Regions from separate parts of the Homo sapiens genome. Here all the other regions are reported to be linked to region 3. Evidence: microRNA targets listed by miRTarBase, many of them from high-throughput screens and not tested one by one. Region 3 holds a microRNA gene; each other region holds the end of a gene's coding sequence.

Region 1 (4,096 bases), not on the chromosome of region 3:
TCTCCCCCTCTTGCCTTGGTCCTTTCTATCTTTGTTTTAGGCCAATTTCTAAAAAGACTGAGGCCTCCTTCAAGGTTGAACAGATTTCTAGAGCCTTGTTTTTGCTGTGACAAGTCCCTAGTCCCTGTTCACAACTCTGAAACCAAGAAACCTGAGAACCAAGAGAACTGAAATGAAGCCCGTTGGTCTCAGCCTGGCTTGAGCCAACATGAGGCTCTCTGCTGCCTTTTGTTTTCTTAGGTTTTGCTGAGAAACGGGAGTGCGTTCTGTGTCGGTGTTTGTGACGCCCTGAGACCCTGCTTGGCCTAGCTAAAGTCCAGAAGGCCTGGGCCCCACAGGGCTTGGATGAGGGCTCATGGGCCTGTACTTCAGGAGGCCTGAGAGGCCCGGTCAGTCCCATGAGGCTACTCGGCTTGGCCCGCAGGTCCTCCGAGGCACAGGGCAGAGGGACACCCCAGGGACCCATCAGACTCACGACACAGAGAAACTCAAGTGGGGTGCCAGGGCCGGCCACAGAGGCCACGGGCTTCCTGCCTGTGAGGAGCCGCCCTGTTTGTCTGAGCCCTTTGGAGATTTAGGTTGAGTCATGAGAACCGGTCATTGGAACATACACTTTATTATGTTACAAAAACAAAAATCCCCACTGAAACACAGCTAAAAAAATAACACATTTTCCCAAGATTACATTACCAAAAACAGTTGTTATGTCATTGGAGGGCGTCCATTAATACTGCTCGGAGAAGCACGATCTTACACGAAAAACACGGATGGGATTTCGTTTTCACCTTAAAGCATTAAAGTGCTTTAACTGGTAACAGAGGAGTGGATGTTTGTGCGTTGGAGACACTGACTGTTCTGAGTGACAAGTGGCTCTGTGCCAGGATACTGCGGGTCGGGCTCCTGGGTACAGCAAGGGCTTCCCAGCAGCCCAGGCCTGGTGGGAACGCTGGGGGAATGGGGGAGAGTCGCTGTTTCTGACCAGAGCGACTTGGACAGATGTGAGCTGACCTGCCTGGCGAGCTCCTTCTGCCTTGCCTCTCTGAGCAGACTCAGGACCACTGCCTGTCCCCCTTGGCCCCAGGAGTGCCAGCAGCCTCCCTCCAACCCCTGCACTGCTGGGAAAACCATCCGCCTTCAAGATTTATTTGTTGATTTGTTTAGTTTTATAAAAACATATCACTTAAAGGATTCTTGTTCCTGGGAATTTGCATTTTCTCCTGACCACGGCGAAGTCTCAACTCTGTCTACTTTCACAGCTGCTTCTCCAGTGCAAGGAGGCTGCATGGGCTCCCTAGACAGGTGCAGCTGGGGCCATCTGGCTGCTCCGTGTTCTGGCCGGCTTCCTTGGACATCTGGCTGGGGTTCCAGTGACAGCTGCCCCTGGGCCTCTCCCAGCCCCCCCAGCCCCCCCAGCCCTTCCCAGGAGCACACTACAGGGGCTCTTGGGACAGCCTCACTGGACTCAGGGTGGACAGGTAACGTACCTAAGAAACAAATCAACAAGCCCTCTGGAACTGAAGCACATCTGCGCTGGGCTGAGGAACCCCGGGTGTCAGGATGGGCCCCCGCGGCTCCTGAAGTGGAACATGGGGGAAGAGTGGGGGCTTCAGGAGGTGGCCTCGGGTAGCAGGTGCCCAGCCCCCAAGAGATGGGTGTGGTGCCTGGGGCATGGGTCTTAGCCTTTCTGGTCTCAGCTTCCTCATCTACAAAATGGCAATAAGATGGAGAGCTGAGGTGACATGCAGCTGGGGTGGCTGCGCCACCCTGGGAAAGCCCCGAGTCTGCTGCTGCTGCCGCTACTGACTGATGCCCTGGGCGTGGGCACCTTTCTAGGGAGATGGAACCCTAGAAGCTAAGCGGCCAGAGCTTCCTGCCCTTCAGCTGGAAGGAGCCGGAAGGAGCTGGAAGGAAGGGCCAGGCCCTCGCCCTGGCTGCAGCCAGATCCCCTGAGAGCCGACAGCCCCGTTCCTGCTGCCCCCACAAGCGTGCACCCAGGCGACTGTGCTGTCAGCGGCCCCCGGGGAGGTGGACGGTGGGAGAGGGATGCCTGCGTCTTCGTAGACCAGGTACCTGCGGCAACACCAGTCGCTGCTTTTAAATAAGGGGAGGCTGGTGACGGTGATGCCACTTAGCAAGATGGAGTCCTGATCTGGGGATGGGGGCTGTGTCTAACCTTGCTGTGCCCTGAGGGGCTTAACTGCTTTTTCTGGGAGATGTTAGTAGGGGAAGCTCCTAGCCCTTAGGACCACACATACCCTAGGCAGGGGGTGTGGAGCTGGCCGTGCCAGAAGGGGCCAGGCAGCCTGCACTCTGGGTGGTGTCTCGGCTTGCGTGGGTGAGGGCTCCCATTGGCCCACCTGCCTGCAATGAAGGGCCTCGTCACACCCGTGAGGCCCCCCAGGGGCTCCGGTTCCCTGCCCTGAAGCTGTGCTCCGGGACGGTCAAGGTTCGGCCACCAAGGCTCAGGCTGCTCCTCGTGGATGGAGGTGGCCCCAGAAAGGGCCTGTGCAGACTCTGTCTCCCCGGGGCCTACTAACTCCCTGGGGTGCTCCACGAAGGCCTAGACCCCCCTACACCTACCTCAGTCTGTTCCCTGACTGCCACCGCCTAGAAAGGAAAGCAATGCCCTGTGGACCTTGCAGTGCTAGAGAAGGTGGCCGTGGCAAGGGAGGAGCTGCTCCCATGGCAGAGCATTCCTGCAGATTTGCCTGGATTTGCCCTTCCTGGGGTTCCCTCTAGGCTTCCTCCCCACCCGGCCTTCCTGGGAACAAGTCCCGCCCACCTGGCTTCTCACTCAGCTTCCTCAGCCTGGCTCATGGGCGCTAGGTTGAACTCCAAAGAGAATGCTGAGAAAGAAAGTTAAAAAAAAAAAAAAAAAAGCTGACCCACCATGTAGAAAAGGGTATCATTTTATCAAATATTGACAATTTCCAGTCCTCTAAGGACAGGCTGTCCCTTTCTGCTGAGGGGTCCCCGAGGAGAGGCGACTGTGGCCAGGCTGAGGGGCACTGGCTGAGGCGGTACCACATGCTTCCCCGCGCCTGGGGGGGGTTGCGCCCTCCCCAGTTTTCTCCAATTTCAGCAACACTGTGGTTGTTGTTAGGGGCAGGAAGGAGGCGGTCCTGCAGAATACAGCGTGCTGGGGGCAGAGGCCAGTCCCAAGTCCAGCAGAGAGAGTCCCCAGCCCCCGGCGCGGGCAAGACGCAGTTAGGGACATTCCCTGAAAATACACTGGTGTTTCAGACACAGTCACTTGGCTGCTCACTACTATCCAGAACCAAAAGATGTCGCAAAATACTTTTTGGCAGTCCATCAGCAAAGAGGATCCTTTCCTTTGGAAGGACCTCGCCTGGTTGGGAGATGACAGTCTCTAGGATGAAGCCTGGAAGTCGGAGCCGACGCTGCGGTCCCCACCCACGCCTGCCATGGAGCACGCCGGGGCAGTGGCAGGGCTGAGAGTGGGCCAGCCCCCGCCCCACAAGCCCAGCACTAGGGCAGCTCCAGAAGGTTCTGCAGGTGACTCAGGCTGTCCACAGGCGGCTTCGGTGGCTGGGCCTTTCCTGGGGCCTGTGAGGTGCCTGGGGATGGGCCGGACCTTGCCTTTCCCCGGGCACAGCCCGAAGGTCCTGCCTCCTGAGGCAGTTTTGGACACACAGGAAGGAGAGGGGAGGCAGCTTGGGTCTCTGGGCGGTGGCGCAGGCTGCAGCCAGGCGAGGCCCTCAGTGGATCTCGGCCTCCGTGAACTCCTCCTTGATGGGCTGCTTGCGGGCCTTGCAGTCGGGCAGGTCGAAGCCGAAGTCCGCCCACTCGTCAGGGCCGCCGCCTGGGCCGCCGCGGTTGGGGATGGTGATGGTGTGGCGCACGCGGAAGTGCACGGCCTCCATGACCCGCTGGCGCTGCAGTTCCCCTGAGCCGCCGATGGAGATGGTGGCCGCGTTGCTAGAGCGGAGCAGCTGCTGCGCGGTGCTGTAGTCGTGGCCCTGCTTCAGGTCCTGCAGGCCCCGCCAGATGGTCATGCGGTACTGCTCGGGGATCTTCAGGGCCCCCAGGTCCTGCGAGAGGCCGGCGCATTAGGGGCAGGGGGCAGTGGAGCAGG
Region 2 (4,105 bases), not on the chromosome of region 3:
ACCACATCTAGACTTCAACCTACAGAAAAGTCCAAAGATACACCAACAGCAGCCCAAGTTAGTCAACTGAAGCTGGCTCAAGGCTGCCCCCTTTAGGTGGAGACTAACCAGCTCCCTGACATCCTTCAGTTAACTGCACCTTCCTCCTTTTTGCTGCCTGGAATGTCTACATGCTGCCTGGAGCTATGGCAGCCATCTTGTGACCATGAGGCAAACCCTATGTGCAAGAGCAGGAAGCTGGAAAGAACCTGTCAGCCCTGGATTGCTTCCTCTGTGACCCCCATTACCTGGGAGAGAACACATCTTTCTCTTGTTTAAGGCGTTCTTATTCCCAGTCGCCCTCTCTCCCCTGTATAACCCTAAAAGCACAGGAGTACACTTGTGACTGTGACTTAAGTTTTTCAGAACGGGGGAGTTTGGATTGTTTAGTCCTCTCTCCATGAATAGTGAATAGCAATGCCAGGTGAGTTCCTTCAAAGCTGGGGGGTGAAGGGGTGGAGGTGGAAAAGTAGGATTGAGGATGGGAAATAAAAACAAACAAATGACACCATCCAGGGAGATTTGTCACATTTTATTCAGTATTTCTGCTGCACTGCCAGCCTAGGGATGCACTTGATTCCCAAGAAATGCAACTGTCCTATTCGCAGAGCCGTCCACAGGTACCTACCCCCTGGACTGCAGCAACTTTATTACCTTAACTAGCACAGAACAGAGGTTGATTTAAACTCCTTACACTCACTTCTCAGATCAATGAATGGGCAAAGAAACACCTCATGGCTCTGGGAAGGCATGCTGAGACCCGTTTTTGCAAGTCCTGAGGAATGGAAGAATATAGCTGCCAGGTATCCCAAGTCTAGGGCAGGGAGGGTAGTATCGGCATCACTTTCACTGCATTCTGTTGGTCAACGCAAGTCAGAGGCTCAGCCCAGATCCAAGGGCAGGGAAGAGGCTCCATCGTGTAGTTGGGCTCACTTGGAAGGTAATGGGAGGAGTTGGTGGCTGCTTTAAGACACATACCACATCTAGATTTCAACCTCCAGAAAAGTCCAAAGATGCACTCACAGGAGCCCGTTAGTCAACTGAAGCTGGTTCATGGCTCTCTTCTTCAGGTGGAGACTAACCAACTCCCTGACCTCCTTCGGTTAAGTGCTCCTTCCTTTTTCCTGCTGCCTGGAATGTCTATGTGCCATCTGGAGCTATGGCAGCCTTCTTGCAACCATGAGGCAAACTCTATGTGCAAGAGCAGGTAGCTAGAAAGAGCCTGCCAGCCCTGGGCTTATATCCTGCTTCCCAGGGAGCTTAAAGATAGCAAAACCCACAGCCATTTTCATCAAATGCCAGGAAATTCTTAGGCTGGGATTGTTGGGATTGTTTGAATGGTTGAGCGTGAAAGACTTGTTATAATGGGCTTGTTGAATACGGTGAAAGATGAGATGGCTTTTAGCTGCCTCCACTCCCCGTGTCCCATGCTCCATAGATGTTTCTTTTTTTTTTTTTTTTTAATCATTTTTTGGTTATGCCAGGTGTCTCCTGTGTGTCCCTCCAGATCCCTCTCCAGCCCTAGAAACCTGAGCTCTATAAATGTTGCCTCTCTCCACTCATCTTCTCTTTGGCTTCAGGTTGAGTTCAGCCAACAGATGCCCCTGTAGGATTTGGACACAGGGAGCCAGGGGAGAGGGGCATCAGCTGCCTGGTTAGCAGGGCTGTGATGATTCTTCTACCTATGACTCTCAGTGCTGTTGCCTCTTCCTCTGGATCTTGGAAGCTTCCATGCTGAGGTCTGAAGGTGGCTCCCTGCCTCCCACTGATGTCCTTAGAATCCCATCCTCACCTAATACCTGGTATTGAACACTGCCTTTCTTAGATGTCATTTAGGCTCTCGTTTCAATTCCCAGTATGCTTCCTGCAAAGACCTCGATAGATGGACTGAGGGGAATAGTGCAAGGTCCTCCCATCCCCAGTATTGGGATCTAGGGGCAGGGGGTCCCAGCTGTGCAGTAGGTTAGGACTACACTTCCATCATCAAAGCCACAGAGGGAAGAGGTGAGGATGAAACACACTAGAATTGACTTAGAAAACACACTGGCCAAATCTTAGCTATTTGAGGAATGTAGGGAGAAAAGCCACCTTCTCTCTCTATGTCTGAAGGTTCCCATGGCTGTCTCTTTGCCCAAGGGGCAAACTTTCCATCAGGGCATCTTCTGTGCCTCTGAGGATCATTTTCCAATTATAGGCAATGGTAGTACGTGTTTCAGTGCAGAATGAGATAGAGTTGTTTAATTTGACAATAAAGCGATGCGTCAAAAACCTCAGTCAACACAGTAAGTGTTTTCTTGTTTTCCTGCTGACCAACCTAATTCTGGTTTCATACAGGGCAGCCAGGTGCCCACCTAAAAGACTGCACTTCTCAACTTCCAGTTGTTTCTATGGATAATGGTTGGAAGCAGAAATTGGGTTGGGGCTTCCAGATAATCCCCCCTCACAGGGACTGCTTCAAGAGAAAGGGATGCCCTTTGGTTCTTTCTCCTTTCCACTGCCTGGAATGTGATGTCTGACACTGTGGCAGCCATACTGGCATAATGAGGCCAACTCTCTGCCATGCTAAGAGTGGCAGAGCTGGGAATTGAAAAGAGCCTGCTAGCCTTGGGTTGCTTCCCCTTGATCGGCTCATTACTTGGAAGAGAACACACCCTTCTCTTATTATTTTCTTTAAGGCATTTTTTTTTTTTTTTTTTTAAGGCAGGGTCTTACTCTGTCTCCCAGCCCGGAGTGCAGTAGTGCAATCTTAGCTCATTGCAGTTTTGACCTCCCAGGCTCAAATAATCCTCCCGCCTCAGCCTCCTAAGTAGCTGAGACTACAGCTGTGCGCCACGACATCTAGCTAATTATTTGTTTTTTGTAGAGATGAGGTCTCACTGTGTTGCTCAGGCTGGGTAGGTGTCTAACTCCTAGGCTCAAGTGATCCTCCCACCTTAGCCTCCCAAAGTGCTGGGATTACAGGTGTGAGTCACCGTGCCTGGCTTTGTTTAAGGCATTCTTTTTCCGCAGCATCTGTTACCAGCAGCCTGAAGCCATTTCTATAACAATATCAGGAAGACACATGGACAGAGACCCTAATGTATGAAAAATGCATCAATTATTTGAGATTAATGAGTCCTCATAAACAGAGACTGAGAGGCTCTAACTTTCCTCCGCTATGTGAGAGTAGGAACAGACACTCCTCCCTGTCCTTTTGTAAGGCTGTTATGTCATCTAGGTGATGAAATTGCAACAATGCTTTAAGACGGAGGGGTGAAAACATCGGGCATTGGCACAATGACGAACCCTGAGATTTAGAAGAGGAAGAGGAGGCATCAGTGGGTGCCTACTGGGACAGTCTTATTTCACAAATCAGGAAAGGGAAACCCTACATGGGCGCAGTGGCTCGTGCCTGTAATCCCAGCACTTTGGGAGGCTGAGGCAGGTGGATGACTTGAGGTCAGGAGTGCGAGACCAGCCTGGGCAACATGGTGAAACCCTGTCTCTACTAAAACTACAAAAATTAGCTAGGCATGGTGGCAGGTGCCTGGTGCCTGTAATCCTGGGTACTCAGGAGGCTGAGGCAGGAAAATCGCTTGAACCCGGGAGGCGGAGGTTGCAGTGAGCAGAGATCGTGCCATTGCATTCCAGCCTGAGGGACAGAGCGACACTCTGTCTCAAAAAAGAAAGAAAGAAAGAAAGAAAGTGGGGACCCACTCTCAGTCCAGGGCATGTTCCTTGCAAAAAGGGAAGCTGAAGATAGAACCAAGCTTGGAGAATTTTGTTTGCAACGCAGTCAGGCTCTCCTGGATCCTCTCTCACAGTCCTGGCATTCAGGGGGTGCCATCCCCATCCTCGTGGCATGAACAGAACGGGAAATGTCCGCAGCACGGCTGCAGCCACGGCTTCCACAGGATGTTGCTCATGGAAAACTGCTGGGGCACAGGACTCAGGGTCTGCCGATGCTCCGACACCGCGGCACCTACCCTTGCTATCACGGCGTGGTACAGGGGCTCGGAGTCGGGGGTCAGGGGCCGTGCCTCGGAGGGGTCCCTGGAGAGGTCAAAGAGCAAAGGGGGTCTGTGAT
Region 3 (4,105 bases):
TACCAGCTTTCTACCTTGCATTTAGCTGCTTCCTGAAGAAGGCTCCAGGGTAAATCAGTCTATGTTCAAGCTACTTCCCCTTGAAACCTTGAGGTACCCATCTTTGAAAGAGGGACTGGGGGTGGGGGTAGGAGCCAGGAAGGAGGCCTCTGCTCCAGGAAACTATGAATTCAAGAGAGAGCAAAATCAAAAAGCTCTCCACTACAACACAATTCCTCAATACAACGGCTTACACGGAAGCATAAATCAGTTGCAGGAGGCCAGGCTAGCCCAGCCTACTGCATAGCTGATTCAATCACATTTTGCAAAGGAAAAAAACCCAAGAAGGAAAAACCTAATCACTCACTTCCCCCAAAGAAACGAAGCACCAAGTCATTTCCTAAAAATCTCTAAAGCCCTGGCCAGACCCAGAAAGAATGGGGCACAGCCTGAGGGAAACTGCCGGGGGCACCACAGTGCTCCTCAGGCCTCATTCCCAGCCCTGTGAGTCCACCTTCCCCAGCCGGTCCCCTCCAGGGTGGGTGCAGGGCAGCCAGCCAGGCCTGCTTTTCGGCATCTCATTGCTCCAGCCCACTTCTGGGATGTTTTATGACCACGCAATATTCTGGAGATTTCCACTTCATTTACTTTTAGACACTGATCCCCAGGGCTGGGAGAGGCATTGGTTCAAAGGGAGAACTTTGTTTTCCCAAGCTGATTCAGCGCTCCAAAGAGCATTTTTCTTAATTAGGGGCGAGGTCTCCAGTTGAAGCTCCCATCAGTTCCACTCCTAGACAATTTTGTCTCCAAACTAAGAATTTGTCAAGATGTTCAGAAATCTACCCCATGGCCAAACTCTTTTCTCCCATAATTCTGACATCTGCATGTTCCACTGGGTAAGCCTCCAGGACAAAGCTAACATGGACAAAAGTCAGGCCAACTGCAGGACGGGGTATGTCCCTTCCTGGCCTCCCAGGCCCAAACCTGCCTCCCTGACCCCAAAACACACCTGACTGCCTACCACACACCTGACTCCCCTGTGTTGGCTCCCACATGCCCCCAAAACAGGGACAACAGTATGGGCAGGACGCCTGCAAAGGACTACTCTACACGTGGCCTGCAGAGGCAGGGAGCCTGTGGGAAAATGCCTCTTGAATGGGTTTTTACACGACCTGGCAAGGGGTGGGCCAACCTGGCCGTGATGGTTCCTCCCTCTCACCCTCCCTCCTCCCAGCTCCTAAAAACCTCTCCTGTTTTCCAAAGCCAAGTAAGACAGGGACCAGACGTTCCCTATTTTGTCAACCAGTTCTTCACACAGTTCAAGTCACCTCACTGCATGTCCCCAGATGTTTTTCCACGGCCAAGAGCCAAAAACACAACACAAACAAAGGACAAATAACCAAAGTTCCAACACCAGGCAAACCCGAGGTTTCAGGGGTTGGTGGGTTTTTGTTTTCGGGGAGTAGAAGCAAACGCACTAGAGGAATAGATAAGAGACTTTAAAGGAGAGTTTAAGGAATTCCAGCAAAAAACTTGAAGAGGACTAGAGTGGGTCCACATTATGTTGCATCGGTCAGGGAACAAAAGACCGGCCATTGGGAACACATCCACAAAGATCCATCTTTAATGAAATGGTGTTTGGGAGAGGAACAGGGGCTTCCTGCGCCACCGGGCCAAACCTCCGCTTCCCACCTCCCCAGGGGCAATTCTAGAAGTCAGGCCCCGTTCTCCCCACCCCCAAGCTCAAGGTTGCCGCCCTGGAAAGCACAGCAGGGCAGGCCTCGGTAAGTGGCAGGGCTTGGCCCATGGGTAAGCCGGGTCCCGTCTGTCCACTCAACCCAGGTCGCCGGGGCGCGGTCCACGTCTGCCCAAAGGGTACGGACCCCAAGCAGTGACCGACTCACACTTCCGAGAGCGTCGCTATTTCTCCAGCGAAGTGCGGGGATTTCCCGAATCACCGCACGCAGCCGGGGCGAGCGCACCTCACCACTCCTTCTCCAGCGTGGACCTGAGAGGCAGCCTGGCCGGAGCGCACGCCAGCCCGGGAGGAAGCCGGCCTGGGGCGAGGACCGGGGAGAAGACGCTGGTCCCGGGGGCCGAGAACTGGGACTTTGTAGGCCAGTTGATCCGACACCCTCATCTCGCCCGCAAAGACCCAGCCCTCAGCTCCCATCCTCGGAGTTCGGGGTGCGTCCCCGACGGGCTTCCCGGGGCTGGGTCCGGTCGCCGGCTCTGTGCACCGCGCTCCGCTCCGCCGAAGCTCTGGGTGTCCCTCAGGCGGCGTTCCCCGGGAAAGTCCACCGCCCCGCCCGACCTCGGGTCGCGGGCTCCAAACCCAGCCCTCCAAGGGTTACACGACGCTCGGCGGCCTCCACGCCACCCCCGGGCCGCCTCGGCTCAGGCCGAGGGACAGCGCTGGGGGAGGGGGAGGTGCGGGGACCAAAGCCTCCCCACCGCAGCCCCACTCCCGAGTGGGGCGCAAGAGTTATGCGCCGAGAAACTTCGCCACGCTCCCACGCCGCGCCTGCGAGGCCCAGCTCCGCTCTGCCTCGGTTACCTGCGCTCAGCTCGGCGGGCGAGGGGCGCGGGGCGCGGGGCAGGAGCCGTGGCCGACCTCTCGCAGCAGGCCGCACCCTCCCGCAAGGCCGAGCCCGCACCGCTGCCTGGGCACGGGGGCCATAGCCGCTAGCCGGGGCCCGCGCCCCGACGTTCCGGGAGCCCCTCGAACTCCTGGCCGGGGGCCGTGGCCTCGCTCGACCTGCCCGGGACCTGGGGGCCGCCGCCGCCCCCTCCGCTAGGAGAGCGAGCCCGACGAAGCCGGGAGAGGAGCGGGGCGGCGAGACCCCTCGAAAGTTGGGGGGGTCGGCTTGCTCGCCGCGGCCCGACCTGGCTCCACGTGCTGGTGACACATCAGGAAGGCTGCGCGCCCCGCGGCTCCCGGCGGGCGGACGCGGCCAGCGCCCGCCCGCACCGCCTCCCGGAGCCGAGCGGACGGCGCCCCGCCCCGGCCCGCCCTTCGCCCGCCCCTAGGCGGCACCGCCCCCGGCCGCGACGCCCGCTCCAGCCTGCGGCACCGGCGGGAGAGACCCTGACGGCGGTGGGGGGTGGCCCGGGTTCCCAGGTCCCGGGTGGCCCGCACTGCCCCGGGGATGGGGTCCCGACGCGGGCGGCCCTACTCGACAGTCTGGAGTGCCTTCCTCCCAGTCACGCAGTCCTTCCCGCCCCGGAGCCCAGTAATTTTCCCTTTTCCTCCTTTGACCCGTCCGAGCAGCTGCCAGCGCTTCCTCCCGCGGAGACCGGCGCGGGGAGCCCCCTGCCGGCCGCTCCGCTCCCGGGCCGCGCCCCCGCCCGGTGGAGCGCGCCTGCCGCCGGCCTCAACTTCCCCATCTAGAACCTGGAGCCGCCGGGCACTTCTGGCAGGGCTTTGGTGGCAAAGATTATAAATTAAAGTGCCAAGCATAGTACCGGGCAGCATACTTTCTTGAGATGTTAAAATTTCGTGCTTTCAACTCCCAGTTCCAGCGGCCTGCAGACAACCTCTCTTCCTGGCTGTGCTGTTTGAAAAGCTGAGTTCCTTTAGGGAGACTGTGGAAAAGGAGTGGGACAGAAAAGCTTTGAGGCTGAGTAAGAGCTGTCCCAAGATTAGCGAGGGGTGGGAGGTCAGTGGAATCCCCTTGGTGGAGACCTGCTGCCCCACTGTCTCTCCGGAGACGCCAGGATGTGGGAGAGTAACTGCGTGTCTCCTCTGGGACCTGAACCAGGCCTCTACCAAGATCCCCAGCCTCAAGATGGCCAGGATTCCAGGCACCGTGGGTGATGGGGAAGCCCAAATAACCACTGAGGTTGAGTTTCCCAACCTCTTCAGGTCGAGATTTGGAGCCATTTAAAGAAAATAACGTGACATATCTGTTTGTGTCCCGACATAGATATTAGCTATGTTCCTGCCTTCTCTTTCCTGGCCTCACCAACCCAGATCATGCCTTTAAATCTCACTATGAGGCTGGGCACGGTGGCGCACACCTGTAATCCCAGCACTTTGGGAGGCCAAGGCAGGATTGCTTGAGCCCAGGAGTTTGAGACCAGCCTGGGAACATAGTGAGACTCTGTCTTTACAAAAAGTTAAAAA

What was found. The annotated mature microRNA hsa-miR-193a-5p reads UGGGUCUUUGCGGGCGAGAUGA and lies in region 3 at 2,116-2,137, opposite strand. An mRNA with a match to its seed (bases 2 to 7 or 8) in the 3' UTR can be bound and repressed. Matches are read on the target gene's strand: a 7mer-m8 pairs with bases 2 to 8, a 7mer-A1 pairs with bases 2 to 7 and ends in A, and an 8mer does both.
Region 1: the mRNA of TP73 is a reported target of hsa-miR-193a-5p. Seed matches in the 3' UTR shown: 7mer-A1 at 3,677-3,683 and 8mer at 1,670-1,677.
Region 2: miRTarBase lists ARSD as a target of hsa-miR-193a-5p. Seed matches in the 3' UTR shown: 7mer-m8 at 2,743-2,749.

What each region holds. Positions count from the first base shown.
Region 1 is chr1:3,732,703-3,736,798 of GRCh38, reverse strand. It overlaps TP73 (tumor protein p73), which reads right to left. Exons shown (of 14, transcript NM_005427.4): 14 at 598-4,052. The coding sequence ends at 3,720. It also overlaps the pseudogene GFOD3P. Among named protein-coding and RNA genes, the nearest start is that of CCDC27, 18 kb to the left of the region's middle. RefSeq lists an enhancer at 2,556-3,344.
Region 2 is chrX:2,903,420-2,907,524 of GRCh38, forward strand. It overlaps ARSD (arylsulfatase D), which reads right to left. Exons shown (of 10, transcript NM_001669.4): 10 at 553-4,105. The coding sequence ends at 3,852. ARSD-AS1 (ARSD antisense RNA 1) reads left to right here and starts at 1,485. Exons shown (of 2, transcript NR_144459.1): 1 at 1,485-1,786; 2 at 2,149-2,703.
Region 3 is chr17:31,558,048-31,562,152 of GRCh38, reverse strand. MIR193A (microRNA 193a) reads right to left here and starts at 2,157; the gene lies at 2,070-2,157. RefSeq lists an enhancer at 2,354-3,144 and a silencer at 2,886-3,375.